2 separate regions of the Homo sapiens genome follow, and region 2 is linked to region 1. A link means that fine-mapping ties the variant in region 1 to the expression of a gene that starts in the linked region. Tissue or cell type: caudate. Region 1 holds a variant in brackets; the other region holds the start of a gene. All regions are shown on one strand. Distances are between the middles of the regions.

Region 1 (2,687 bases):
CTGGGACTACAGGCACCACTGCCTCTGGCTTGACATAGACTTTTTGAGGACAGCACACTAGTTGTCTTGCAGAATATTCCCCCTACTCTGGACTTGTCAGATTGCTTTATCATGGTGTCATTTAACTTACTCCTCTACCCTGTATATTCCCTGTAACCTGGAAGTTCATTTAAACAGTTTCATTAGATATGGGTTAAACATTTTTGGCAAGAATACAAAGGTGGCACTATGACGTCATGTTGTATGTATCACATCAGGAAGCTCATAATGTTTGGTTGTCTGACTATAAATGATGCAAGTTCGATTATTAGTTAAGGTCGTGTTGTGAGTTGAACTGTGTCCCCCCAAAAGATAAACTGAATTCCAAACCCCTGGTACCGGTGAATGTGACTTTATTTGAAAATAGTGGTTTTTGCAGATATAATCAAGCTAAGATGAAATCATACTGGATTAGGGTGGGCCTAATCCCATACTGTCCTTACAAGAGAGAAATTTGGACACCAAGACACAGAGACGTTCAGGGTGGATGCCAAGTGATGACAGAGGCAGAGGCTGGTGATGTGTCTATAAGGCCAAGAATGCCAAGCATCGCTGGCAACCACCAGAAGCCAAGAAAGAGGCATGGAACTGATTCTTCTTCAGAGCTCCCAGAAGGAACCAACCCTGCTGACACAATGATTCAGACCTCTGGCCTCCAGAACGGAGAGAATACTTTTCTATTGTTTTAATCCTATTGTTTATTCTATTGTTTAAATTATTGTAATAATTTGCTACAGCAGCCCCAGGAAATAAGTTCAGGTGGTGACATCAGATCTTTCTAACACAAAGGGAAGAAGGGCCGGGCACGGTGGCTCACACCTGTAATCCCAGCACTTTGGGAGGCTGAGGTGGGCGGATCACCTGAGGTCAGGAGTTCAAGACCAGCCTGACCAACATGGTGAAACCCCGTCTTTACTAAAAACACAAAAATTAGCCGGGTGTGGTGGCGCATGCCTGTAATCCCAGCTACTCGGGAGGCTGAGGCAGTAGAATCGCTTGAACCAGGGAGGCAGAGGTTGCAGTGAGCCGAGATCACGCGACTGCACTCCAGCCTGGGTGACAGAGCAAGACTCCATCTCAAAAAAATAAATAAATAAAAGGGAAGAGGTTTATAGTAATATTCCATTGTGGTTTAATTTGCATTTCCCTATGACTAGTAATGTTGAGCATTGAACATCTTTGTGTGAATTTATTTGCCATGTGTTTCTCTTCTTTGGTGAAGAATGTTTTCCCATTTTTGTTTAAGTTGTTGGTTTTCTTAATATTGAGTTTTAAAAGGTTTTTTAAAAAATATTCTAAACATACATCTTTTATCAGTTAT[T/C]TAACTTGCAAATATTCTTCTTCCAGTTTGTGGCTTGTCTTTTTGTTCTCTCAAAAGTGCCTTTCAAAGAACAGGAGTTATGGCTGGGTATGGTGGCTCACACCTGTAATCCTAGCACTTTGGGAGGCCGAGATGGGTCGATCGTTTGAGGTCAGGAGTTCTAGACCAGCCTGGCCAACATGGTGAAACCCCGTCTCTACTAAAAACACAAAAATTAGCTGGGCATGGTGGCAGGCGCTTATAATCCCAGCTACTTGCAAGGCGGAGGCTCGAGAATCACTTGGACCCGGTGGCAGAGTGAGACTCTGACTCAAAAAAAAGAGAACAGAAACAAGATCACAATATTTTCCCCTGTGTTTTATTTTTAAAGTTTTATAGTTTTAGGTCTATGATCGCTTTTGAGTTTATTTTTATATGGTGCCAAGTATAGATAAAAGGTTCATTTTTCTGTATATGGATAAACAAATGTTCATGCACTGTTTGTTAAAACAGAAACTACCCTTTCTCCAGTGAATTGCCTTTGCACCACTGTCAAAAATCAATCGGCCATATATGAGAAGGTCTATTTCTGTACTGTATTATGTTTCATTGTTCTGTTTTTCTTTCTTGATGCCAATTTCACACTGTCTTGATTAATGCCAGTTTCTAAGTCTTAAAGTCAAGTAGTGTAAATCCAACTTTATTCTTCTTTTACAAACTGGTTTTAGCTATTACAAGTCCTTTGCACTTCTATGTTAATTTTAGAATCAGCTTATACATTTCCACCAAAAAAGACTGCTGGGATTTTGATTGGAATTGCATTGAATCTACAGATCAATTTGGAAAGGAATGATACTTTGTAATATTGAGTCTTGCTATCCATGAACACATTATATCTCTCCTTTTATTTAGATCTTCTTTAATTTCTATCAGTAATTTTCATTGTGATATCTCATACATCTTTTGTCAGATTTAGCTCTTAAGTATTTTATGTATCTCATGCTGTTGTAAATGGTTTTGCTTCATTTCAATTTTCTATTATTCCTTGCTAGTATAAGGAAATAAATTGATGTTTGTGCCAGGCGTGGTGGCTCACACCTGTAATCCCAGCACTTTGGGAGGCCGAGGCGGGCAGATCATGAGGTCAGGAGATCAAGACCATCCTGGCTAACACAGTGAAACCCGGTCTCTACTAAAAATGCAAAAAATTATCCGGACATGGTGGCGGGCACCTGTAGTCCCAGCTACTCGGGAGGCTGAGGCAGGAGAATGGCGTGAACCTGGGAGGTAGAGCTTGCAGTGAGCCAAAATCCTGCCACTGCACTGCAGCCTGGGTGACAGAGCGAGA
Region 2 (2,687 bases), 890 kb after region 1:
TTTAAGTGAGGGCAATATTCTCAGCCAGAGGTTTGGGGTCTCATGCCCACTGTCCTGCATGGGCTCTGTTCAGGGTGGACTGCCTGACTGGTCTGGCCTCAGGATCCCAAACCTTTTTTCGGCAAAAGGCTCTGGTTCCTGAGAAGGCCACTCAGTCCTGGCACCAAAGTGACATCAGTCCCTCCCTACACTACAGGCAAATGTAGGTGTCCCTAGTGATTACACCCCACTGGTCTGCCTCAGACATATCCAGTGGGTGTCATCCTGATCCCCCACACATGACCCCCACTCCATGGCTATGGCTGATTGAACAGGGGCAAACTCTTGATTCAAGCAAAGCCAGTCGGAGCTGATATCTGGTAGAAGCCTCATTGTTCCATCCCCCAGCAGGGAAGAAAGGGGAAAGATATGAACAGGAATAGGGATCAGCATCCAGAGAGAACAAGGACAAGTCAGCTTCTTGAGAGAACTTCAGGTCCTGTGGGACACGATAACACTATATTCCCACAGGAGTCATCTGGTGGCTTACATGAGCTCCCTGTGTGTTTCTGTTACTTGCTAGCCACAAAGTCCCTGCAAACAGAAACTTTAGATCCACTGCCTCCTTTACTCCTCCTCTCTATAGCGCTGTGAAGCAAATGTCCTGCATCATCCCCATTTCACACACGCGAAAAGAGGTTAGAACATTTCAGGACGGTGGTGAGGCACGGACTGCTCAGTGTGGAACTCCGTCCCACGCCCTCTCTGGGTCCTGCTAGCCCTGGCCCAGCAGCGGGATGTGGATAAGTCCCAGAAGAGTGTCGGGACACTGGGTTGGGGTCTACTTCAATAGGTGACCTTCGGGGCGGTTGTTAAGAGCCCCGCTACTCCTCCGGGTCCCGCAGTCGCTGACCACACAAGCCCTGTGTCGGGATCTGTCGAGACCCTCGTTCCCTCGCCAACCCCGGGGCGCCCCGATTCTGCAGCCACTCCCTTCTTGCGCCCCAGCTTTTCCACACAGCCGGGTCAGGACCCATTCTTCCGGGCTGAATTCTGTTCTCTCTCCATGCCTCCTCCCACGTGCTTCCCTCCTCCCGGAAGCCCCTTCTCCGCCCTATTCCCAGCCGCCTCCCAGTTAGCCCCCAACACCCTCCCGGCACCTCCTCCAGCTTCTTGGCGTTCCCCGTTACAAACACGATCTTCTTCCCCACCAATGAGGCCGCCATGGTGATCCCCGGTTACCCAGCTGAGCCACCGAAAACTCCTTGGCGTCCAGTGACAGAAAACTTCCGGCTGGTGGCGGAAGTGAACGGCTCAGTTTCCGGCCAGGGGTCCCGGGGAAAGCCGACCCGGACCCCAAGGCGCGTATCGGGCGAGTGGGCTCGCGGTGGCGGCCTAGCCCACAGCGTCCGATTTGCTGGGGGCCTCCCGAGCCTGGAGACTGAGTGACCCACCCCTCCTGCCTAAGGGACGCTATCTTCAAGAACCGGAAGAGACCACTCCCACCCCCACCCCGCCCCTGCTTTCGCTCTTCTCTGCAATGGGGTCTCCGAAAGGAGAAGACTGCAGCCCTGTGACCCTGGAGGTTTGCGCTCTCCTATGCTGTCTCAAAAAACTGCCTCCTTCTAGGCAAGGGCTTCCAAACCCTCATCCTGATCTCACCTTCAGCCTTACCCGCCAGCTATGATCCACTCGACTGTGAACTTAAACTCGGCATAGCCTAAAACAAGCCCAAACTTCTCACCCGTTTTCACTCCTAGGCTTGAGAGCTCAGTATGTAGAGTTCCTCACTTCCTCATCCCTCCAGCCTCTCAAATCTATCACCCCTTCTCCGTGGCCACCGTTTCAGCCAGATCTTTGCATTCCAAACACAACAGAAAGTAGGAAGTGCCCTCTCAAAGGTGGGTCTGCTGAACCTCTGCTGATACTCTCTTTGCAGCAAGTCATCTGACCTCCCTCCTCCAGAGACTCAGCCCTCTGCCCCCCGCCTGGACCCCTGTGTCAGTACCTCTTGAATGGCCACTTCTGCCCATGGACAAGAAAGGGAGGGAGTCTGAGTTCTTACCAAGCTCCTCAGGCCATTCTGATGCTCATCAAAGTGTGGGAAAGCCCGGTGGCTCACGCCTGTAATCCCAGCACTTTGGGAGGCTGAGGCGAGTGGATCACCCGAGGTCAGGAGTTTGAAACCAGCCTGACCAACATGGAGAAACCCCATCTCTACCAAAAAGTACAAAATTAGCTGGGCATGGTGGTGCATGCCTGTAATCCCAGTTCAGAGAATTCAGGATTCAGGAGAATCGCCTGAATTCGGGAGGTGGGGGTTGCAGTGAGCGGAGATCGTGCCATCGGACTCCAGCCTGGGCAACAAGAGCAAAACTGCGTCTGAAAAAGAAAAAAAATGTGTGGGAACCACTGCTTTGGGTGGTGACCTGTTTTCTTTTATTGAAGTAGAAACACTAACCATTATGCAGAGTCCCTAGAGGAGTGGCCATGGGGATTTGGGGGCAGAGGAGGGCTTGGGGGACATCAGTTACCCCGAGGAGCCTGAAAAGAAGAAAAACAGCCCACCTTACATGGATGCCTTTCTTGGATCTTAGCCAGCTCAAGCCCCAGCTCAGGAAAACCTTCCCTGAGCTCCCTTTCATCTGCTTGCATAGCACTGACCTCTGCACTGCAAATAGATATTCATTTGTGTGATTCTGTTTTCT

Evidence for each region. PIP is the estimated chance that this variant, and not a neighbour inherited with it, causes the effect.
Region 2: ITPA starts here. The variant in region 1 is fine-mapped to the expression of ITPA in caudate (GTEx, PIP 0.98).

What each region holds. Positions count from the first base shown.
Region 1 is chr20:4,098,012-4,100,698 of GRCh38, reverse strand. No RefSeq gene overlaps it. Among named protein-coding and RNA genes, the nearest start is that of SMOX, 49 kb to the left of the region's middle. The variant T/C (reference allele first, on the strand shown) is at 1,361.
Region 2 is chr20:3,208,070-3,210,756 of GRCh38, reverse strand. ITPA (inosine triphosphatase) reads right to left here and starts at 1,259. Exons shown (of 8, transcript NM_033453.4): 1 at 1,140-1,259. The coding sequence starts at 1,205. RefSeq lists enhancers at 1,064-1,133, 1,016-1,664.